Homo sapiens: one gene and its partners. The protein of the gene in region 4 purifies or fractionates together with the protein of the main gene of each other region. This does not show direct contact. Each region holds a gene or a part of one and is shown on either strand. Other genes may lie near its edges.

Evidence for each region.
Region 1: the proteins of TTK (region 4) and ESPL1 purify together in Homo sapiens (affinity purification with mass spectrometry; one large-scale study listed by BioGRID and IntAct). This does not show direct contact.
Region 2: the proteins of TTK (region 4) and RCBTB2 purify together in Homo sapiens (affinity purification with mass spectrometry; one large-scale study listed by BioGRID and IntAct). This does not show direct contact.
Region 3: the proteins of TTK (region 4) and KIF2A purify together in Homo sapiens (affinity purification with mass spectrometry; one large-scale study listed by BioGRID and IntAct). This does not show direct contact.
Region 5: the proteins of TTK (region 4) and NAA50 purify together in Homo sapiens (affinity purification with mass spectrometry, with the first as the bait; one large-scale study listed by BioGRID). This does not show direct contact.
Region 6: the proteins of TTK (region 4) and UTRN purify together in Homo sapiens (affinity purification with mass spectrometry; one large-scale study listed by BioGRID and IntAct). This does not show direct contact.
Region 7: the proteins of TTK (region 4) and HERC5 purify together in Homo sapiens (affinity purification with mass spectrometry; one large-scale study listed by BioGRID and IntAct). This does not show direct contact.

The regions. Positions count from the first base shown.
Region 1 is NC_000012.12:53,288,799-53,292,298, forward strand, and holds part of ESPL1 (separin), read left to right. Parts: intron 1-291; coding exon 292-505; intron 506-605; coding exon 606-796; intron 797-1,286; coding exon 1,287-1,414; intron 1,415-1,548; coding exon 1,549-1,671; intron 1,672-2,042; coding exon 2,043-2,198; intron 2,199-2,891; coding exon 2,892-3,062; intron 3,063-3,185; coding exon 3,186-3,290; intron 3,291-3,479; coding exon 3,480-3,500. UniProt on the Homo sapiens protein: Caspase-like protease, which plays a central role in the chromosome segregation by cleaving the SCC1/RAD21 subunit of the cohesin complex at the onset of anaphase. During most of the cell cycle, it is inactivated by different mechanisms.
Region 2 is NC_000013.11:48,523,081-48,526,580, forward strand, and holds part of RCBTB2 (RCC1 and BTB domain-containing protein 2), read right to left. Parts: intron 1,678-3,500; 5' UTR 1,579-1,677; intron 1-1,578.
Region 3 is NC_000005.10:62,312,706-62,316,205, reverse strand, and holds part of KIF2A (kinesin-like protein KIF2A), read right to left. Parts: intron 1-3,500. UniProt on the Homo sapiens protein: Plus end-directed microtubule-dependent motor required for normal brain development. May regulate microtubule dynamics during axonal growth. Required for normal progression through mitosis. Required for normal congress of chromosomes at the metaphase plate.
Region 4 is NC_000006.12:80,007,649-80,011,148, forward strand, and holds part of TTK (dual specificity protein kinase TTK), read left to right. Parts: intron 1-160; coding exon 161-383; intron 384-737; coding exon 738-844; intron 845-3,165; coding exon 3,166-3,309; intron 3,310-3,500.
Region 5 is NC_000003.12:113,722,250-113,725,749, reverse strand, and holds part of NAA50 (N-alpha-acetyltransferase 50), read left to right. Parts: intron 1-1,654; coding exon 1,655-1,791; intron 1,792-2,208; coding exon 2,209-2,328; intron 2,329-2,777; coding exon 2,778-2,844; intron 2,845-3,500. UniProt on the Homo sapiens protein: N-alpha-acetyltransferase that acetylates the N-terminus of proteins that retain their initiating methionine. Has a broad substrate specificity: able to acetylate the initiator methionine of most peptides, except for those with a proline in second position.
Region 6 is NC_000006.12:144,456,335-144,459,834, reverse strand, and holds part of UTRN (utrophin), read right to left. Parts: intron 1,066-3,500; coding exon 824-1,065; intron 662-823; coding exon 481-661; intron 1-480.
Region 7 is NC_000004.12:88,470,619-88,474,118, forward strand, and holds part of HERC5 (E3 ISG15--protein ligase HERC5), read left to right. Parts: coding exon 1-55; intron 56-1,790; coding exon 1,791-1,884; intron 1,885-3,500.

The DNA of each region.
Region 1 (3,500 bases), on a different chromosome or scaffold from region 4:
GTAGCCTCTGAACCTGTGTTTGAACCCCAGCACTCTGTCTATGAGCTGTGTGCAGGTCACTTAACCTCTCCAAGCTTCTATTCCTTCTGTAAAAATGGGGTTTAGGGAGCATGGTGGAATAAGTTGATGCCTGTTAGTTGCATGGCACCCCACTTGGCACATTGCCCTTCATAAATGGTAGTTGCTGTTTGCCATGTGGGAGATGAGATAGGGACTGTTCCTTCTTGGAAAGTTCCTATCAACTATGAAATAAGGAATTCAGCTGTACCAAGTGTCCTGACGTTCTTCTAGGTCTTTCTACCCTGGACTCCATCTGTGACTCCCTGAGTGTTGCTTTCCGGGGCATTAGTCACTGTCCTCCTAGTGGGCTCTATGCCCACCTCTGCCGCTTCCTGGCCTTGTGCCTGGGCCACCGGGATCCTTATGCCACTGCTTTCCTTGTCACCGAGTCTGTCTCCATCACCTGTCGCCACCAGCTGCTCACCCACCTCCACAGACAGCTCAGGTGGGTGCTGACCATCCCCAAGACTCCTGCTGGGGCAGACTAGAGAGAAGGTCCAGACTTTGAAGGAATGGGACCTCACCCCTCCCCGTGTTGCTTGCAGCAAGGCCCAGAAGCACCGAGGATCACTTGAAATAGCAGACCAGCTGCAGGGGCTGAGCCTTCAGGAGATGCCTGGAGATGTCCCCCTGGCCCGCATCCAGCGCCTCTTTTCCTTCAGGGCTTTGGAATCTGGCCACTTCCCCCAGCCTGAAAAGGAGAGTTTCCAGGAGCGCCTGGCTCTGATCCCCAGTGGTATGCGGGCAGCCTTCTGGCCGGCTCCTCTGTCCTCTTCTGCATCTTCTTACTTGGGAGCTGGGTGAAGGAGTTTTAGGCATTGGTTAGTTTACATAGATTTATGACCCTTATGTCATACCTTTTCACCTGTTAGCATCTTACATCAGGAAGGTTTGTTGTTTTTTTTAAACCTCAACTTTGAATTACCAGCAAATTCAGTGTCTTTCCTCAGAGGTGAGTTCAGATGACTGGGGTCTTCTGTGCTAACATGAAACATATTCACATGATTTGAGTGCCTCACTTTGTTAGTTGCTGTGAGGGACACAAAGTACAAGTCATGGTCTCTGTGCACAGGGAGCTATTAGAGCAAGGGAGAGCACCTTGACCTCTAGTGACCAGGGAAGGCTTCTTGATGCTGGCTTGAGTGATGGATAGGAATTGAGTGCCCAAGACAGGGAAGGGAATTCCTTTAACAGCTGAATGAGTCTGGCTGTATCCTGTGTGTCAGGGGTGACTGTGTGTGTGTTGGCCCTGGCCACCCTCCAGCCCGGAACCGTGGGCAACACCCTCCTGCTGACCCGGCTGGAAAAGGACAGTCCCCCAGTCAGTGTGCAGATTCCCACTGGCCAGAACAAGGTAGGATTCCTGGGCCATGGAGCAAAGTTGGGCTGGATTGGGCTTCGGGTCAAGCTGCTCACATTCTGTGTTGAGGGAGGGAGAGATGGTGATCACGTGGACAAGCAGAGCTCTCACAGCCCCATCTCCCAAAGCTTCATCTGCGTTCAGTCCTGAATGAGTTTGATGCCATCCAGAAGGCACAGAAAGAGAACAGCAGCTGTACTGACAAGCGAGAATGGTGGACAGGGCGGCTGGCACTGGACCACAGGATGGAGGTGTGTGCTTCTGGGGTGGGGTCAGGCCTGCTCTAGGAATGACCCGGGGGGTCCCAGTGACTTCTCTACCAGACGGCCTGGGTCAGTGCTAAAGCCACTTCAAATCCCTTCTGGAAGTGTAGACCTAAATTTAAAAATATGTCACCTGGGGAGAACTTCAGAGCCCAGAACTTGAAGAATATATGGGAATGGATATTTAAAGATACGCAGAAAAAAAACGACTTAAACCCAACTATCAGCTTCCCAGCAGAAAGATACGTAAGACAGACATGCACATTGGAAAACGCATTTTCTCATCTCCAAAATGTCAGTGCCTGTGAGAAAGAAGCTTGGTTTCCTCTCTGACTGAAGGGTCTGCCCTCTGCATTCAGGTTCTCATCGCTTCCCTAGAGAAGTCTGTGCTGGGCTGCTGGAAGGGGCTGCTGCTGCCGTCCAGTGAGGAGCCCGGCCCTGCCCAGGAGGCCTCCCGCCTACAGGAGCTGCTACAGGACTGTGGCTGGAAATATCCTGACCGCACTCTGCTGAAAGTGAGTGAGGAAAGCAGGGAAGGGGGCCAGGCCCAGTGGCTTGCACCTGTAATCCCAGCACTTTGGGAGGCCAAGGCAGATGGATTGCTTGAGCTCAGGAGCTCGAGACCAGCCTGGCCAACATGGTGAAACCCTGTCTCTACGAAAATACAAAAATTAGCTGGGCATGGTGGCAGGCACCTGTAATTCCAGCTTCTCGGGAGGCTGTAGCAGGAGAATTGCTTGAACCTGGGAGGCGGAGGTTGCAGTGAGCTGAGATCGCCGCACTCCAGCCTGGGTGACAGAGTGAGACTCCATCTCAAAAAAAAAAAAAAGGATAGGCCCCTTGGCTTACGCCTATAATCCCAGCACTTTGGGAGGCCGAGGCAGGTGGGTCACAAGGTCAAGAGGTGAAGACCATCCTGGCCAACAGGGTGAAACCCCATCTCTACTAAAAATACAAAAATTAGCTGGGCTTGGTGGCACATGCCTGTAGTCCGAGCTACTCAGGAGGCTGAGGCAGGAGAATCGCTTGAACCTGGGAGGTGGAGGTTGCAGTGAGCTGAGATTGCGCCACTGCACTCCAGCCTGGGCGACAGAGCAAGACTCTGTCAAAAAAAAAAGAAAACAGGGAAAGGGAAGAAACTGGACTTAATCCTTTCCCAGCAGCTATCATGAATGAAGATGGTGCTCACCACCACTGTTTCCCTGCAGATCATGCTCAGTGGTGCCGGTGCCCTCACCCCTCAGGACATTCAGGCCCTGGCCTACGGGCTGTGCCCAACCCAGCCAGAGCGAGCCCAGGAGCTCCTGAATGAGGCAGTAGGACGTCTACAGGGCCTGACAGTACCAAGCAATAGCCACCTTGTCTTGGTCCTAGACAAGGTAAGGAGCTGGGGCAGAGGGGCAGTGTCTAGTGGGGAGTGAATACCAACTCATCCCCATGCCCCTTCTGACTTCTGCATATACCTGGCTGGGGACAGTAACCTCTTAGTGCTTTTTGCCCAGGACTTGCAGAAGCTGCCGTGGGAAAGCATGCCCAGCCTCCAAGCACTGCCTGTCACCCGGCTGCCCTCCTTCCGCTTCCTACTCAGCTACTCCATCATCAAAGAGGTGGGGTTCAGGGCGTAGTGTCTGGGGATGACTGGCGACTGGGGAAGACGTCAACAAAGAAGGGCAGAGAAACCTGAGAAGATAGGAGAGGGTCCTAGGAATGGCTCAGACATGGAAAGGGGCTGAGATTGTTAGAGCTTGGGCCTCTTGGTGAGACAAGCATCCTAATCGCCAGTGTCTCCTCCTCAGTATGGGGCCTCGCCAGTGCTG
Region 2 (3,500 bases), on a different chromosome or scaffold from region 4:
TGCTTTTTAGAAGATTACTTAGAAGTTTCTCACTTAAAAATTTATAAACCGATCTGATTGACAATATGGAAAGATATTCTGTCATTTTAATTAATACTTACTACATATTATCTATGGCATCTTAGCAGATCTGTTAAAATCCTAATTTTCTCTAAGACCCAGCATGACTGCCACTGAGATTTACATCAATGTGGATCCTGATTACCCAAATGGGCTGGGACCTCTTCTCTGTATTTCCACAGCACTTTTTGTTTTGTTTTTAACTACATTGAAGGCATTTTTCAAATTCTGCCTCATATGACAGTTATTCTTGTATGATGTACCTTCTCTATTAATTGGTAAGTTCTTCAAAAGGGCAGACGATTCCTTCATTGCTATAACCCACAGCCCATGGCTCAGAGTAAAACGCAACGTATTCATACAAAGCATCCTTAGAACCCAGCTTTTTGTATACTGGAACTGGCCTGTAACCAAAGTTCCCTCTCCTTCTGCCTCACCCTATCAGGAAACACTTTTTCCATATTTGCCCCAAGTTTACTGGAATAAAAAATAAAAGGAGAGGAGAAGAAAGAGGGAGAGAAGAGAAAAAAGAAGGGACCAAGTAGAGATGTGACTGCCCCTCACTGCACTACCCTAGGCCCCCTTTCGTTCCTAGCAGAAGGGAAATCTTCCTAATGTGCTAAAATCATGAAAAACCGATCCTGGGCTTTTGAGTAGGAAATAACCTCTTTTCAGTGTCTTTTATCAATTTCAAGTAAAATTAAACTCTTTAAAATTAGAATGGTAGGAAAACAGGCCATTCTGTTTATCTGACATCAGGTTAAGACATAATTGTATGTATGTCATGGAAATTACCACATTCAAAGAAATGACATGCAGGATTCAAATTGAATGAAATGTAAGATTAACATAATTTCATATTTGTCAATCAGAAAGTCCTTCAAGATTTAAAAATAAATCAAGATTAATTACTATTGTATAATACTATTAAAAAGTGTTTTGAATTTTTTAGCATTGTGGGAGATGGTTGGCTTTTTTTTTTACATTATTTCAATGTGATGCATACATAATAAAGAAAACTATCATCCCCAATTTGCATGTATAGTTTGTGCACTACACGTGGAGATTACCTTACCCTGTTATCCATGTGATTTCACCAGGCTATTAACAATATGTTGATATATATACTTAAAATAACAATTCACAATATACATACAGAAAGCCATATCCATGATGTGATAAAATGTATTCTAAATAACAACAGCAATAACAACAGTAAAAATAAAGTTATTCTGTGCCAGGCACTAAGTGCCTCACCTTATTTAATCTTTATAATATCCAAATGAAACAGGTTAATCATTGCCTCCATTTTATTCACACATTTCAGTAACGTGACCAATAGTCACCAACCAATCAGTGTCAGAGCCAGTATTTGAACCAGGACTATTCCAAAGCCCTTGTTTTGGGACCCTCCACTGTATTTCAGGGCTAGATACTTTAAGTTTTTCTTGTGTACATTCTCAACAGTTCTATTTTATACTGACTGGCTGGGAGCATTCCCTCCAAAAACTTTTGTACCTGATTGTTTTAAATTTCTGGAACCCAGTATTCAGTCATCTTTAATCCTGTTCCTTTTAGATCCTTGTAAAGTTGTCTTCTAGAGCAAAGTTAATGTGACTGGAAATATAAATACACAAATAAATTCTATTAGAGAAAAACAGAAGGAAAAGAATATACTGTCTTGCACATTTAACAATCCATTCTTTATCTGAGAAAAATACAGCTTAAAAATTGTATCTGTGCTATCTACTATTAAAAAGTCAGCAGCAGAGATGCTCTATTATAAAAATACTAAAGTTATAAAATGTAACTTTAGAATATCATACTTTATAAGCTTCAGGAGAGGGTTTCAACAATTTGGACACTGAAACACATGAAAAAATGCACACTAAGGAGAATTTAATCTATAGTATTTCCATATGGAAAATAAAAGAGAATCCATGTGGAAATGTAAAAAAAAGCAAAACTTTCAAACTTTTAGAAGTATAGAAATATATTTATGACCTCAGAGCAGTTAAAGATTTCATACATAAGACAGGAAAGCATAAAACACAAAGAAAAGAGCAGTAAACTTGAACAAAAGGAAAAATATGCCACAGAATGGGGGAAGATATTTGTAACATGCATAATGGACAGCTTGGAAAGGATCCATACACAAAATATATAAAGAATGCCTGCAAATCAGTAAGAATAAAACAAACGACACAATTCAAAAGTGAGCAAAGGATTCATGATATATATATATATATATATATATATATATATATATATATATATATTCAGTTATATATGTATATATAACTGAAATTTCACAAAATAATTCTTACTCCTCCTACATGAGATGCTTGATATCTTTTCCATTTTTCTACTTTATGCTATTTTATTCTACCCTACTCTATCCTATTTTATCTTGTTCAATTTCATTTTAAAAGAAAATGCTGATCTCAGCCCACTAATTTCCAGATCACTAACAAGTCCTGCAATTTTAGCAACACTGCCCTAGATAAACTCTAGAGCATACACACAAATATTCCCAATAGCAAAAAGCAAGAAAGAACAAATTGATCAACAAAACCAATAAACTGTGGCATATGCATACTATATAGCTATTAAAATAAATTATCTAGAATCAAAACAGGTATATCTACAAAACAATGTTCACCAAAATCACTAAGTCACAAAATGATACATATGGTATCATTTGATAACATTTGATATTTGATAACATTTTAAAACATGCAGAAGACAGTACTATTTTAATGTGTTATGGATACCAACATATGCATGGCTAGACTTTGATGGGAATTTTTTCGTGGGGAAGTTTTGGTGGAGGGAATACCAAAGATAAAAGGTCCCATGTAACTCTGTCAATGAATTGGTATGCTACAGCTTTTCCATCTGACAAGATGGTTTTCAAGATTTTAAGCTTAAATTAATCATCTCAGGATGGAGAGATTAAGGTTACCCAATGTTAAAGAAAATAAACTCTTAAAATGAGAATGCTATCATTCTAATTTTGCCTTTACCAAGGACATGGAAATTCAATAAACGTTTGGTAATGAAAACTCATAAACTATAATTTCTTTAGCCATCTGTAAAATAAAATTGAATCAATACCCTAGGAAGGCCAGGCATGGTGGCTCACACCTGTAATCCCAGCACTTTGAGGATCGCTTGAGGCCCCCAAAAGTTTGAGACTAGCCTGGGCAACATAGGAAGACACCGTCTCTACAGAAAACTTAAAAATTAGCTACACGTGGTAGTACACGCCTGTAGTCCCAGCTACTTGGGAGGCTAAGATAGGTGGATCGCTTGAACCCAGGATGTGGAGGCTGCGGTGAACCATGATCACACCACTGCACTCAGCCCGGGTGACAAAGATCTTATCTCAAAAAATAAAAAATAAATAATTTTTTTAATGAGCTATGATCGCACCACTG
Region 3 (3,500 bases), on a different chromosome or scaffold from region 4:
CTTAAGCAAATTCCCATTGCAGGTAAACATGTAATGGAAGTGATTTATACCTTAAACTCAATTACTTTTAGGATATTAGTGGCAAAAACTATATGCAGCCTGAGTTGGATGCTCTCTTTGATATTACCTTGATAGGCTCTACAGTCCTCTACACTGTATTCTTGAACAGCGTTAGCCTGATTAAATAAAACTGAAGAGATTTAAAAGCTATACTCAGACTTTGCAAATGTTAAGTCCTTTCCTTTCAACTCATCTGCCCTTTATTCAGCACAAGGGATATATTGCAATATAACATCAATTCTTCTTGCTGTGTGTTCTGCATATCATCTGTTCCTTAATCATTGCTCACCCTCCTAGACTGATGCAATCTTATCCATGCTACCTCTCATTTTCAGTACTATGCTCCCTCTAATCTATCACTAATCACTAACTCCTATTACTGCTCTTAGGAGATTAAGTCCTATAGTAGTTTCCAAGTGTCCTAGAAATTAATTCCAAGATCCTTACCTTACCTCTGTTTCCAGGTCTTTAATAAGGTGCCCCAGATTACCCCTCCTCCCTTATCTTCTTCATCATCCTCCCTCTGCCTGTTTTAAATGCCCTTCACCTGACAGCTTTGTTTCCAGTCAGGGACTTCTTCCATGCTGCCTACATGGCTAGAATGCCTCCTTGCCCTCAGGGCAACCGACTGGTCATCTTCCTCTCACCATTTAAACTTCACTCTCCAAGAAGTCTTGTCAGATACTCTGTTAGGAGATACTACTTTTACTAAAATAATGGATCACAACCCTGGCTATACCCTGGAATCACTAATGTGTGACAAGTTAAGCTTCATCAGTATGTTAGGTGCCTTAAAGTAAAATACTGATACCTAGACTACATACCAGACAGAATCTCTAGGCAAAGGAACCAGATATTGGCTGTGGTGGGTTGCTTTTTTTTTTTTTTTTTTTTTTGGTCTGTTTTTTTCCACAGCCCCACAGGTGATCTATTGAGCAGCCAGAGTTATAAACCACCACAGGCTGAGCATTCTTTAATCCAAAATGCTCCAAAATCTGAAACTTTTTGAGCACCAACATGACACCATAGTGGAAAATTCCACACACGACCCTGTGATGGGTTGCGGTCAAAATGCGGGCATAAGGCCGGGTGTAGTGGCTCACACCTATAATCCCAACACTTTGGGAGGCTGAGGCAGGTGGATCACTTGAGGTCAGGAGTTTAAGACCAGCCTGGCCAACATGGTGAAACCCTGTCTCTACTAAAAATACAAAAATTAGCTGGGGATGGTGGCACGTGCCTATAATCTCAGCTACTGGGGAGGCTGAGGCAGGAGAATCACTTGAACCCAGGAGGCGGAGGTTGCAGCGAGCCAAGATCGTGCCACTGCACTACAGCCTGGGTGACAGAGTGAGACTCCATCTTAAAAAAAAAAAAAAAAAAAAAACAGTTCATTCTCAGCACAGTATAGACACTCAGCAAATTTTACCACAAGTTTGTTCCCTGCTGATCTTGTCCTTCCTTTAGGTAAAATGTGGTCAAAATTAATGCCAAAACCTACAAAAACCTGGAGAAAAAGTCTTCAAAAGTAAATAAAACATAGCCCAGGGAGGAACCTGATTCTTACAGTTCCCGGGCCATAATGTGTAAGGAGTTTATATCCAAATTACACATAACCACCAGTAGCTGCATCCACTGCTGTTTCCCATGCTCTGCTTCCTTGGTCTCTGTTTGTTTGTTTTGAGACAGTGACTTGTTCTGTCACCCAGGCTGGAGTGCAGTGGCATGATCATAGCTCACTGCAGCCTCCAACTCCTGGGCTCAACCAGTCCTCCCACTTCATCCTCCTGAGTAGCTGGGGCTACAGTCACATGCTACCAGGCCTGGCTAATTTTATTTTTTGTAGAAATAGAGCCTCATCATGTTGCCCAGGCTGGTATCCAACTCCTGGCTTCAAGCAATCCTCCTGCCTAGGCCTCCCAAAGTGCTGGGATTACAGGCATGAGACACCACACCGAGCCAGTCTCTATTTACAAGTACCCAAACCCAGGATATCTAGAGAGAAACCTGCTGTCAGGTGCTGGTCTGCCAAAAACTTTAAATTGAATAAATTTGACCAGGTATGGTGGCTCACACCTGTAATCCCAGTACTTTGGGAGGCCAAAGAGGGAGAATTGCTTGAGGCCAGGAGTTCAAGACCAGCCTAGTCAACATAGCAAGACCCCATCTCTACAAACAATACAAAAATTAGCTAGGCATGGTTGTGCATACCTGTAGTCCTAGCTACTTGGGAAGTTAAGGTGAGAGGATTGCTTGAGTCCAGGACTTGGAGGCTGCAGTGAGCTATGATCATGCCACTGCACTCCAGCCTGGGTGACAGAGCAAAACCCTAAAAAAAAATTCCTTTTGATACCAAAACAATTTAAAAGTTATAAACTTATAACTCAAATAGGTACTAGAGTATAGGAAATAGGCTAATAATGACAATGCCAATTTCAATTGGCAGACTAGGGCTATTAGGGCTGATAATGCTGTATTAAGAACTCTGAGGCTGGCCGGGCGCAGTGGCTCAAGCCTGTAATCCCAGCATTTTGGGAGGCTGAGGTGGGTGGACCACGAGCTCAGGAGTTCAAGACCAGCCTGGCCAACATGGTGAAACCCCATCTCTACTAAAAATACAAAAAAATTAGCCGGGCATGTTGGCGCATGCCTATAATCCCAGCTACTTAGGAGGCTGAGGCAGGAGAATCGCTTGAACCCAAGAGGCAGAGGTTGCAGTGAGCCGAGATCACGCCACTGCACTCCAGCCTGAGCAACAAGAGCGAGACTCCCTCTCAAAAAAAACTCTGAGGCTAAATTCATCAGGAATGCTATGAGGGATCACGGATATTGGTCATAGAGGAGGAGAGATGGCATATATGACATGTATTTTCCATCCAAAAGGTCCATAACTTCAAGAGTCTAACAAAAAAGCCTAATCTTCAAAAGGAAGGTAGTAATAATGTACACACAAAATGGCATATTTCTATCAGTACTAATCACACTATAGATGAATCACTTATTTACTTGTTTGTGAGGGCAGGAACTATTTTTGCTTTATTCATTTTTTGTATCTCCAACACCTATCAGAATGCCTGATATATAGCAGGCTGTTAATAGAAGTATATTCAATGAAATCTGCAATAAAAAAAAAAGAAACATAAGACCACATTATTTTGATATGTCATAATCACTTAAGGTCTATACTCCAAAATATCACACACCCTAGTGAATGACCATCTGAACTTCGTGTTTTATTGTAGTGGGTAATGATATCATAGTGCACTATAACCTCAAACTCATAGGCTCAAGCAATTCTCCTGCTTTGGCCTCCAAAGTGCTGGAATTACAGGCATGAACTACCATGCTCAGCCTAGAAGCATGACTTTTAAAAGGAACACTTCCCTCACTCATATTACTCTTGGGAGATAGTTTAATATGGTGAAATTCTAATGTCTCTT
Region 4 (3,500 bases):
TTGTATTTATATGAACTTTTACAATTTTAAAAAGTATTATAAGGACTTTATGTACATTGATACTGACAGTACAAATGTTTGACTATATTTTGAAGGAAAAATGCAATTTGGCATTTGTTTTATGTCTTTTCTTGTGATATATTTTGTTCCCCTTATTTAGATAACTCGGGAACTGTTAACCAAATTATGATGATGGCAAACAACCCAGAGGACTGGTTGAGTTTGTTGCTCAAACTAGAGAAAAACAGTGTTCCGCTAAGTGATGCTCTTTTAAATAAATTGATTGGTCGTTACAGTCAAGCAATTGAAGCGCTTCCCCCAGATAAATATGGCCAAAATGAGAGTTTTGCTAGAATTCAAGTGAGATTTGCTGAATTAAAAGCGTAAGTATTAGCATTTTAACTATGTTCAACTATGTTACATAATATGTAACTACACTGCAAAGAGAGAAAATAAAAAACATGGCAGTATTGTGAGAAAATATTAATTTTTTTACCAAATACTTTTGCTTATAGTTAACAAGAGACTAATGTAAACTCTTTTCTATGCACGTTTCCACAACAGTTTACTTATTTTAAACTGCCTAAAAAGATTTTTTTAAAATAACTTATTAGTATTTAATTTTACCCACAGAAAAAAGCAATATCCCATGTTTTTTGGAAAATTGAATGAAGCATTATCAAATTTAAGTAGCTATGTTCTTTTTCTTAAATTTTGACTCAAATCTTTTATTACAGTATTCAAGAGCCAGATGATGCACGTGACTACTTTCAAATGGCCAGAGCAAACTGCAAGAAATTTGCTTTTGTTCATATATCTTTTGCACAATTTGAACTGTCACAAGGTAATCTGAAAATGTCAAATTCAAATTTTAAGTAAAGGATAACTTATTACAACTTACTTCCTAATATTAAATCATATATATGAAGTGGAAATTTGAGGCAAAAGACATTAAAGTTGATCAGATGAGAATATGGGGAGAAAATGCCACCTAAATGTAAATGCAGAGAATATCTGTTATACTAGCTTTTCCATGTATAAAGAGTAATCCAGGGAAATGAGCATGAACATTGTGTATGTGCTACTAGTTAGATTCAGGAAACATCTAAAGGAAAGTAGCTGCTTCACTGAGTATTTGTAGGAAGAAGGATATCAGATATTTAAGCTAGAGCTTTAAATATCTAGAGCTTACATAAACTTTTCTTATGCTATGGTTTCATAGCACCAAAATGTACATTAAAGTGTAGCTATGTAACTTGGTGGTCAAGTAAACTATATATCTGTGTGTGTGTGTGTGTGTGTGTGTGTGTGTGTGTGTGTAGCGTTAATTGGTAGTTCTTTAAAATAAAAAAGTAAACTGCTGTAGAAACTATTTCTTGCTCACTTGGTTCTTCATAGTCTGGATTTTTTTGGGTAGGACCAAGACAATCTCTTCCTAAGACATTTTTAACCTGGCCATTCCTTAGTCTTTTCTCATTTTCCAGGGCCTTTGGATACACCCTCAGTCTGCCCTCTGGCCAGGTGTTTCCATTCTCCCACTGCCTTGTTTCTGCTACAACTGTGATCCAATTTACTGCCAGTGATAAACATATTAACACTATTGGAAGAATCCCCATGATGGTTTCCATAGCAGGGATTGGTCACTGGAGAGTATTCCCCAGGATTGAGCCTGGAGAAAATAATTATATGACTCAGAAATAATTTGAGAACCCTGAATTGTTACCCATTCAGATGATTTCTGAGTCCTAGTAATTGTCTTCTCCAATATGTCCTTTGCTCTATCAGGTTACTTTTTAGAACTATTATCCCTTTCTTCTCTAGAAAAATGGATTCCTCCTTGCTTGTTAGAGAAAATTTGGCAAGGCTTCTTTCTCTCCATTCTGCTTGAAAATTTCTTGAGGTATTGTGGCCTCTCAATAACAACCATAAATTTTACATGTTTAGAACATGTAAATATTGAAACTCTTAAATTGAGTTATCTGTAAAAAAGACGAACTTTATCTATACCACTTTATCTGCAATGTGGTAGTAATGCACAGTGATGCAATGTGGTCAAATGCATTGCACAGTAATGCAGTGTGGTCAAATTATGATTATTTTGAGCACAGTTGATGGCTTGGCTGTCAGGAAATAATGCAGCATCCCTGAAGTCCTATGCAGAGTCTGGTGTGTGAGTATTTTTATAGGGATGGAGGACATTTCAGTTTTTACCAGATTCTTAAAGAAATCTCTGATCTCAATACTAAGCTATCTGATTAATTAAGCTTCTTAAGCCTTTCTCTCTTTTCTTGTGCTAAAATACACAATACATGAAATTCTACCACTACTTAGTAAATGTAGATGTAAGCACTATCAAAGATATTTTTAAAAATTTATAAACTACCAGAAGCTAGAGATCATCTCTTAAGCATTTTTATACGCTAAGTACCAAGTGCATAGCATAGCTCAATGGCTCCCATAAATGTTGATAATATTCTGTAAGATATGTGATGTATACATTTAATATTTATATGTCAAATGCTAGGGGTAAGTTTACCAATTTTTTTGGTAATCTGTCCATACTCAGAAAGGTAATTATGATAGTTCCTCAGTTATTCTGCATTCTTTTTCAGGCTGGTATAGCTGAGTGTGACAGCTAAAGATTAATCTGTATTTATTATGTTTTTCCCCGAAAATCCTTTTGATGGAAGATGCTCTTTAACAAAAGATGTCATCCTTCCCTTAACTAAATGTCATTATGAATGATACTTATTATAGCATGTTGTAAGAGACTGATGCTCTTGGCACTTTTGTAACATCTAGAATGCCCTCCTGTTTCTAACTGTTGTGATTGGCCTTTGCTGTCCCCTGTTGGTAACTGCTTTGTTACACTTCTGTTACTTCTGAAAGTGGACAGTGGTGATAAACTAATGCAAAATTACGTCAGCTACATATTGCAAGGAAACTATTTGGTATGCATTGTTATCAGAAGAGAGTTGGTTATCTGCATAAAAAGTGAGAGATTGCTTACTTGCCTATGAAATAAAATACATGAGCCTTGGAATAAATATTTTTGCTTAAGTCTTTTTGATTTTTTTTTCTAGGTCCTGATGAATACGTATCTGGGTGGTCTGGGTGGTGGGCATTTTACTGCCTAAAAATGACAATTATCTTTTGCTTTGTTAGGTAATGTCAAAAAAAGTAAACAACTTCTTCAAAAAGCTGTAGAACGTGGAGCAGTACCACTAGAAATGCTGGAAATTGCCCTGCGGAATTTAAACCTCCAAAAAAAGCAGCTGCTTTCAGAGGAGGAAAAGAAGAATTTATCAGGTAACTATTAAGGTATACTAATACTTTCTGTGGTAGGTAGTACTTCAAATAAAGATTCGGGATAATAATTTATAGAAAAATATTATTTATGTAGAATGGTTAAAATCTAAGATTAAATTGTAAAGGAGGTAAGACTGAGAAGTAAAAAAGTCTCTACAACCCCATGCAAATTTGTCTTTTTTGCTAACTAA
Region 5 (3,500 bases), on a different chromosome or scaffold from region 4:
GTCACCCAGGCTGGAATGCAATGGTACACAATCATAGCTTACTGCAGCCTCGACCTTCCAGGCTCAAGCAGTCCTCTCACTTCAGCCTTCTAAGTAGCTGGGACCATAGGTGCACGCCACCACACCTGGTTAAGTTTTTTTAAAAAAATTTCTTACAAAGTTTTGCTATATGCCCAGGTTGGTCTTGAACTCCAGGGCTCAAAGGATCCTCTCACCCCGGTCTCCCAAAGTGCTGGGATTACAGGCCTTCATGCCCAGCTGTTTTTTTTTGTTTCTGTTTTTGTTTTTTTGCATTTTAATCTAAATTTTAACATTTCAAAATACAGTTTTTAAAATTACAATTTCTACTACAAATTAAAATCCTTTCAAGCATGTTTTTGTATATGTTAACAAAAGTCCGTTGTTAAATATAGTTGAAATGTGCTTTTTCTCTACAAAACACAATATGCTACAACATCTTTTTGGGCAAATAATACGGATGGAGCAAAAAAATTGTAGAATGCTGTCAGGTTTGCCTTATCACATTTGATCCACCTTTAACAGTATTGAAGTTCACTTCAGCTATTAAAAATTCTTTGTTTACAGCTCTGCAGGCAGAATACCTTTGATACTTTGTTAGAAATTGGAACTGAAAATTTTTCGCTTTAATCTTTTCCATGGACCCAATTGTTTTGATTACAAGTGGTTTCTTAGGAATGCTCCTTTTATTAGTCCTTTCTCATGCTGCTAATAAAGACATACCCGAGACTGGGTAATTTATAAAGGAAAGAGGTTTAATTGACTCACAGTTGCGCAGGGATAGGGAGGTCTCAGGAAACCTATAAACATGGTGGAAGGGGAAGCAAACACATCATTCTTCACATGGTGGCAGGAAGGAGAAATGAGAGCGAAGTGAAGGAAAGCCTCCTTATAAAACCATCAGATCTTGTGAGAACTCACTATCACGAGAACAGCATGAGGGCAACCGCCCCCATGATTCGCCGGGTCCCTCTCACAACATGGGAATTATGGGAACTACAAGATGAAATTTGGATGGGGACACAGCCAAACCATATCACTCCTGTTGCTTTCTTAATGGATAGTTTTCATCCTGGGGTGATTTTCAAGATGGTGGATTCCTTTGTTTCGTTTCCAGCAACTCTGGTTCTGAAAATGGGGTATGTGTATCCAGGAATGTGAATTTTGCATATCACCTCTGTGACTCTGATGTAGGTAGTTCATAGACCACGGTTTTCATGAATAGAATGTGCATGGTATTGCATACCTCCATTGTTTTCTTAGAATAAATTACTAGAAGTAATAAGATACTTGGGCAAAGGAACTGTAATTTTACCAGAAATAGGTGTATCTAAATTTTTCTGAACTATGAACTACAAGGAAAATTTTGACACTTGCAGAATGTTATTCTGGCCTTTGTAGTAGTCGTTGTGTACCATATTTGTCCCTGAATGTATGTAATTATATGAAAGCTATGAGTAGAATTTGTATTGAATGACTGTCAAAATTTGCTTATAAATGATAATTTGCTTATAAATCAACTCTGAAAGAGTTGGATTTATCAATCATGTAAAAAAGACTTGGTACCCCTTTCATATGTTCATATTAACAAATGGGGCTAATTATGTTTTATTGAGTACATTTTGATTTGTTCCAGTAGCCGGATCGAGCTGGGAGATGTGACACCACACAATATTAAACAGTTGAAAAGATTGAATCAGGTCATCTTTCCAGTCAGCTACAATGACAAGTTCTACAAGGATGTGCTGGAGGTTGGCGAGCTAGCAAAACTTGGTATAATATAGTTTTTTTTTTGTCCTCCCTTCTTTTCTTTCTTTTTGTTCTTGAACCCTAGTTTTTTATAGAGCAGAAGAAGTTAACTAATTTAGTTTGTTTATTTTATAAGTGAGGAAATGGGAGTGGTCTAGGTTGTGAGAAAAATCTCAGAGAAATCAGTTGAATAAAACAGTTGAATTTTAAAAAGAAATGCTTAGTGTTCTTAGTGTATACCTGTGTGTTTTCACTTTAAGCTATACTCTAGAGGAGGCTTAAACTTCCTAAGATGGCATAAGAGCTTTGAGATCATTGATATTCATGAAATAGTTGATGAAATTTAATGTTGATAGGAACAGTGTAGTCCTTTAAAAGGGAAAAAGATTAAATGTGTTATTCTGTCTGTTCAACATTATATCTTTATGTTTTCCTTGGCAGCCTATTTCAATGATATTGCTGTAGGTGCAGTATGCTGTAGGGTGGATCATTCACAGAATCAGAAGAGACTTTACATCATGACACTAGGATGTCTGGCACCTTACCGAAGGCTAGGAATAGGTAAAAAATTGTGGTTTTTTTACTTCTTCAGAGAAGCATAAACATATTATTTGTTAATGTGTCTGACCTAGTAAGTTAATTTGGGTCTTTTTAAGGAATACTGAGAAAGGGTTACTGAATTATGTAAAATATGGTGAAAAATAACTAGTGTTTATTAACATAATTCTATTGGAAGCCCTACATAGATTTGCTGTTTACGTCCCCTTCTGCTTTTTCTGTTTTTCTTCTACCCGGAAGTGCTTGTTTAAAAAGGTTAGTCTTCTGCTAACAGTTTTAAACATACGTAGCTATTGTAGAGAGAGAACACAACTTTGGAAAATAAGGATATCTAGTGTATACCTCATAAATTCTTTTAGGACTCAATAAGTAGTTCAGATGGCAAGTGGATAGATACATAATTTAAAGGTTGATTTATGAAGTCACGTGTTTGTTATTTATTTTATTAACAGGAACTAAAATGTTAAATCATGTCTTAAACATCTGTGAAAAAGATGGTACTTTTGACAACATTTATCTGTAAGTAAAATAATATTTAATGTTCTTATCAAAGGGGTTTAATTGGCAGGAGAAATCTTTACTAGAAACTTTAAAATCTGGTCACTTATTGTGCCTTTGGAAACACTGTGGAAGTAGTTGTTACAAAGTATTCGAGTAGTTGTTAGTTTTGTTTAGTTTTGTTTTATTAATAATAGTAGATTAGGAACCTGAGATAGAACACATTGCTTTATTATATTAGGATGAGAGCACCAAAGTCACAGGGATGAAATCAGGATTAAAACTCAGGCCTTCAGAATTCAAGACTATTAATACTACTTTTCTCATGCAAAACCTTGTGTGTTTTGTTCAAGGCTATGTTGATAGCTTTGAACATTGTAGTAGATCATTTGTAGTAGAGTTTAATAATCAAAATCAGAGATTACCTAGCTGAGATTGTACTTGAATCTCAAGAGGCTGTAGATAAAGAGTTATGACTAAGATCACAGTCATGGATGTTCATAATTTAGTTTGGCCATGTGAGAGATTGAATTATACAGTGTTATTTTGGGAGTAATTGAGAAAGCTTGCGTTTTTAATTTTTAAAACATACCATGTATTTTATCAATCAGAAGGAAGATATATCTTCAAGCTTTGAGACCCTAGTTTTTTATTTTTCATCATTTTTTTTCTGTGTG
Region 6 (3,500 bases), about 64 Mb from region 4:
GAAGATCACTTGAGCCCAGGAGTTCTAGACCAGCGTGGGCAACATAGCTAGACCCTGGCTCTACTAAAAATAAAAAACCAGCCAGGCATGGTGGTGCATGCCTGTAGTCCCAGCTACTCAGTAGGCTGAGGCAGAAGGACCACTGAAACCCAGGAGGTCAAGACTGCAGCTATGATTGCACCACTGCTCTCCAGCCTGGGTGACAGAGTGAGATCCTGTAGCTACAAAAAAAAAAATTATTATTATATCCTACTGACACAATTTTAGAGAATGTGAAACTTGCTTGTATGTTTACAAAAAGGTGTGAATCTGGAAAAGAATCTGAATACAGAAGACTTTAAGACTTTGAACAATACAGGCACAAAGGAAAATGGAGAAGGTTGGTGCAAAGCAAGCAAGTGTACTCAAGTTCTAAATGTTGGGAGTCATGTTTACATTAAGGCAAACTGAGACAGGAGATTTTAAAATTGTTGGGTTTACCATTCTCTAGATGTTGTTGACGATCCTCTACAGCCTCTTGTACAGCTTGGTAGCGGCCCAGAAAGCTATCGAAGCCCCGCTGGACAAAATCTGGGGCAGAAGGCTGAGACATCAGGGCCGAGCAGCTTGCACGAGCCATTTCAATTTTGGGGTGAAGGCCAAGAAGATTTGTCAATTCCCGCTAAGGAAGAGAAAATACGGTCACACAACTCACTGAAGATGAACATCCTCACAGGAAGTTAATCAGGGCAGCATTAACTTAAAGTTCATGATACGAGAAGCCCTCCTTAACTCTGGAACTGCACATAGAATTCCTCCACTTTCCAGACCGTTGGCTCCTTACCTGACAGGAATCCTTCAAGCTTGGCAAGGACTGCCGGGAAGATTCAGAAATGGAAGTGTGTTTTACCCACTCCTCCTTTGTCTTGATGACCTTTTCAAGCTCATCAAGCTGCTTGAAATAAGCATTTATATCTTCCTGTAGCTGAATCTTTCTTTCTAGATCTTCCAAATGTTGAGATACATTCTTCCATTCTGATGAAACCTTCTCCAGAACATTTTTTATTTCTTCAGTAGGAAGGCCTTCTATGCAGACATGAAAAACAAGCAAACAGTCTATATATTACAAAATGTGTCTTGAATTTATTCTGAACATTCTAACACTCAGAATAGTGAGGCAATGTCACACATAATGATCACTTTCTTAAGTCCCTTTTAATACAACAACAAAAATTTATAATGATGCACTTAAAAATAATGATGTTTATTTCAATTCCTTGAACAAAGAAGAAAGACATTTTAAAATAACGATTCAGGCACATCAGTAGAACTTCAGCCACTGCCTTTTCTAGATAATATATGTTTCCATCCATGCCATGCTTCTACTCTGCTAGTTTATCACCTGAACCAGTGAAATAAGATCAACTACCTTGATCTGTCTAGGCCCGACTTCAGAAAGAAGACCCTTTGTCCTAAGAAAAAAAGAAAGCTGGCTAGAAAAACTAGGAGGCAGCTCAGGTCTTGGTGACCAAAGCACAGTGTCATATAAATTAAAAAATGAATGGCGAGGATGCCTTATGCTGGGAAGCAACCTGGTGAGTGCAGGAATATTAAGCCAGCAGCCAGGCTCTAGAAGCATCAGCAAGCCCACTGGAGACCTTGCACATAAATAAGCAAATACCAAAAGACTGAGGCAGCAATAAGATGATCTACTTTAGAAACACATCAGGGAAAACAATGCCACCATTTTTATTACTGAAATCTTATCATTTTATTTGTCCGATATTTTTGAAAAGTAGAGAATGTTCCTAAAAATAATAAAGTCATATATAATAATAGGTTTTATCATAGTCCTTCCCTTAATCTAAAATACCTTCAAATCCTCTAAAATGACTATGAAAAAGTATGGGAAATCTTCAAAGGAATCTTTCTATTCGGAGGAAAACATGCATACCAAAAGGATGGCTTCACATTTTTATTGAGTAGGAAAGCAATAAAACAATCCTGCTTTATAAACATATATGATCAAAATCCAGGATAATGAGAGCTTGAACTAAAAAACAAAGGCATAAAAACAAAAAGTCATGTATGATCCACAGACAATGCAACTTTGAAAATTTTTATAATACACTGTGTCTACTGAAAATCATAAATGAGGGCATATCATGCTGTCATTTGAATGTGTCACCTATGTCAATTGCAGAAGTTCACTGTTCACCACCATCTCTCAGGTAAGAGAATATGAGACATAAGCAAAGCATTCACACCACAAGCCATGCTGCATTACCCCTGTTAATGGGGAGAGTATACAAAACAAATCACCATTTTCCTAACAATATGAACAATGGAGATATGGGTCATGCCCCTGCCCCATCATTTCTATTCTAGGCAGGCAAAGGAATAGTAACACCAGCCACATCATCTTTATGTTGGACAATTCATACTAATCAAGGAAGAAAATTAAGTAGGTAAATAAAATTTCTGAGATGGAAAATTACCACTACTCATCTAGAAAACTGGAAAGAGGTGCTCACTTCAAGAACAAGGGCGGTTAAAACAACTTCAGTTATTTTTTCACTGACAATGTCTTACAAGCCATTCATTTTGCCTCTTTAAACCAATTTTAAACATCTGAATCTCCCTTTCTCTAATCCTGAGATATTGCTGGTTACAGTGATGCCCGGTAATGATTCAAACACAATTTACATCTTATAAAAGGAAAACTGCACATTGTCTTTAAAAATAGTTGTTTTACTCCCAGAGATCCAGAGTTTAAAATTTTCTATTTCTATAAAACACAGAGTTCTTAGAAGGTGACTAGTCAAAAGGCAAAATCAACAGAAGATCACTTTATTAATTGTCTAAAAGGGAGAACATAGAACACATTCCTGCCACTCAGTCTCACTTGACTTTACACTTCTCAGTCTATCACTATTGGAATCAAGGGAAACGTTTACAAAACATAGGACCTTCACCAAACTTCCTGGGCTTATATGCTTAGGCAACCACAATGGGCATTGATTCATAAAGCCACATTATCCAGATGCCCAACTACTCTACTGTATTTTACTAGATGAAGAGCTCTAGGAACAAGATAAGCTAAACGAAGAAAACCAAGTATATCAGCTATGAAAGTCAAATGAAACACACTATTTTATTTATTATTATTATTATTATTATTATTATTATTATTATTATTATTTTGAGACAGAGTCTTGCTCTGTCACCAGGCTGGAGTGTAGTGGTGCAATCTCAGCTCACTGCAACCTCCGACTCCCTGGTTCAAGCGATTCTCCTGCCTCAGCCTCCTGAGTAACTGAGATTACAGGCATGTGCCACCATGCCCAGCTAATTTTTGTATTTTTAGTAGAGACGAGGTTTCACCATGTTGCCCAGGATGGTGTTGATCTCCTGACCTCGTGACCCACCCACCTCGGCCTCCCAAAGTTCTGGGATTACAGGTGTGAGCCACTGCGCCCAGCCTCACGCTATTTTATTTTCTAAAATTGTTTCTATGCTCT
Region 7 (3,500 bases), on a different chromosome or scaffold from region 4:
TCCAAGAGATATTTTCATCTCCTGCTTGTCTAACTGGAAGTTTTTTAAGGAAAAGGTAATATATGTAATAAATTAATTGTATTAAATTGTATTAAGAGTACCGTGAAAGAGGATAAAAAAATGATTGGAGAGTAAAATAGCTGTGTGTTCATCCCTTTTTAAAAATTTTTTTTAACAAAAGTAAATATATGTTTGCTGTAGAAAATGTCAAAAATACACACAATAAAAAGAAAGTGAAAATCTTCCATAATCCATCACTTAAGAGTAATAGCTAGCACTTACGTATATGATTATATTTTTTCATGCAAATGTATTCTTTTAAAAAAAATGAGATCATACTGGTTCTTTGTTTTTTTCTTTTTTTTTTTGAGACAGGGTCTTGCCCTGTCGTTGCCCATGCTTTAATGCAGTTCTGTGATCTTGGCTCATTGTAACCTCTGCCTCCTAGGCTCAAGCAGTCCTCCCACCTCAGCCTGAGTAGCTGGGGCTTCAGACACATGGCACTACACCCAGCTAATTTTTGTATTTTTTTGTAGAGCCAGAGTTTTACCATGTTGGCCAGGCTGGTCTCGAACTCCTGAGCTCAGGCAATCTACCAGCCTTGGCCTCCCCAAGTGCTGGGATTTCAGGTGTAAGCCACCATGCCCAGCTGGATCATATTGTTTATACATTGTTTTCTACCTAATATTTGCCCATTTTACATTTTATTCTATCTTTTTTGGTAATTTTTTTTTTTTTGAGACAAGGTCTCACTCCATCACCCAGGCTGGAGTTACAGCATCTTGGTTCTTGGGCTCAAGCATCATCAAACTCTTGGGCTCAAGCAAAACTCCCACCTTAGCCTTCCACGTAGCTGGGACTACAGGCACGTGCCACCACCTCCTGCTAATTTTTTAGCTTTTGTAAAGACAGCAGCTTTGCTATGTTGCCCAGGCTGGTCTTGAACTCCTGGCCTCAAGCAGTCCTCCCACCTCAGCCTCCTGGTGTTGGGATTATAGGTGTGAGCTACCGCACCCAGCCGGTAACATAATTTAATGGCTGCATGACCTTCCATTAGAAGGTCTTCCATGAGAAGATACTTAAACATTTCATTAATAACTTTATATTGAAGTACTAAGAAATTATTGGTCAGAAGCCCTCTCTTTTGGTTCCCACTTTTCAGTCCATTTAACGGGAAGAAATGGATGTATTTTTTAGAAATGGGAAAAATGTTTATCTTTTTTCTGTCTTCCTTCCTTCCTTCCTGTGGTCAGTCCTTTCTTCCTTCCTTCCTTCCTTCGAAAAACCTTTATCTTTTTTCTATGGCCCGCCCTTCTTCCCTCCCTTCTTTCCTCCCTCCCTCCCTCCCTCCTTCCCTTCCTTCTTTCTTTTCTTTTTTTCTTTCTTTCTTTTTCTGAGGCAGGATCTTGCTCTGTCACCCAGGCTGGAGTACAGTGGCATGTTCACAACTCACTGCAGCCTTGATCTCTCAAGCTCAAGCGATTATCCTGTCTCAGCCTCCCTCTGTGGCTATTTTTTTTAAACTGGGAAATATTAATTTTTTTAATCTATTACAGATAAGACAGCATCTGAGTTAAAGTCTTATGGTATATACAGTTAAAGCAGCCTTGATATTTTTTGGTATTTTAGAAAAAATCATGTTTACTACATTGCATTTGGATTTAGACAATTTATTATAGTTACACACTTGAGAAAAAAGGTAATTTTGTTGAAATGGGGCAAGCTCTAGAAGAAACTTTGCATCTAGGGAGATAATCTAACAAAATACTTAATTTATCTTTCTTCTACAGAAGAACTACAGAAATGATGCCTGTTTATTTGGACTTAAATAAAGCAAGAAACATCTTCAAGGAGTTAACCCAAAAGGACTGGATTACTAACATGGTATCTTCAGATTGTTATGTGGAGAAAGAAAATACACCAGAATATTTCTTAAAAGAACTCAAAATTTCAGAAGAAATGTTTTGTGTTAAGGGATTCTCCGAGACCTTGTAGCATATTCAGATTAAGTTAAACTCAGATAACATTTAGGAGTTTGCCCTTTTAGGGTGAAATAGTTGGCATAGTAGTCACACAGGTTACAGATATTCTAAATAGTGTGTCTGTACACAAACACACATACACATATATGCATACACATTCGTAGAGGGAAGTTTTTCAACTCAGGGCTTTAGGAAGATGATTAAGGATTTGTTGAGATTGGTACACTAGAATAAGAACATTTTATATGCAAAGCATAAATGTAGAAATGAGAACATTTTTTCTGATATGAATATCCCTCTCACCAGGGACTGCCTGGATTCTTTTTTTTTTTTTTTTTCCATTCTACTTTTCTGTAGATTCTAGAATGTTCTTGTTCCTTATGGGATGATTGTTTCCTGTTTCAGCACTGTTACTGCTATCTTTAGGTTTTCTTTTTGCAGGTGCTCCAAACATGCTTCCTTTATTTTTATTTTTATTTTTTTGGAAACGGAGTCTCGCTTTGTTGCCCAGGCTGGAGTCCAGTGGTGCGATCTCGGCTTACTGCATGCTTCGTTTATTAATTTAGTTTTTCTTAATGTAGTTTTTATTATTTCCCTATTTTATTTTACTGGTTGATATGGGGATACTACTTTCTGTTCTACTCTCCATTTTTTTCTCTCTGGGTCGCACTGTAGTTCCTTCTTTCTTTCTCTCTCCTTCCCTCCTCCCCTCCTTCCTCCCTCTAGCCTCACCCCATTTTTTAATCTCTCTCTGTGTTCATATCCCTCTTCTCTTTCCCTCTCAATCTTTGATCTCTCACCCTTCCTCCTTTCAGCTCCCGCACTTGCTCTGTTTGCCACAACTAGCATTTTCTATTTCAGCTGCAAGTTTTCTCATTCGCTCCTTTCTTTCAAGGAAAGATGGAAAGTTCAGTTCTCTTAACTTTGGCAGAACCACAGCCCCACTGGGGGTCCGAGGTGAAATGGTTCCCTAATTATGTACCTTTATTGGGACCCTACAACACTTAGTGCTGCCTGTATCAACAACCCAGAAACTACTCAGTGGACTATTTCATCAACATTTGTTAGAGCTCATTTTCTTTTGTTTTCTAAAATCCTCCTGTGGGGGCCAGTTTAACTTTCTTTCTGTAAGATTCTGAGTCATTGCTACTAAATACAACCATGGAAAGATTACCAAAAATAGAAGCCCTTTTGTGCGTCTGTGAAGGGAAGGGATTGGATCAGTTCATCATTAAGGGCTCCTTCTGTTTACTAATTATACCTTGATTGTGCCACAAAAAGAACATATGGTATGTAAATGAAATAATCATAGGGCATCCTTGACCTCCATTGTTTCAGAATAAGATGATTGGATTAGAAGACCTGTAATGTTTCTTTCTATCTTGAGGTTCTGCGATACGGACTCTCAGACCTTTGGCATGTGTTCATTTATTCAGCAAACATTTGAATACTTGCTGTGTGCTGGGCACTGTAATGATGACTCGATGAAGAATAAAAGAGACATACTCCCTGTGCTTT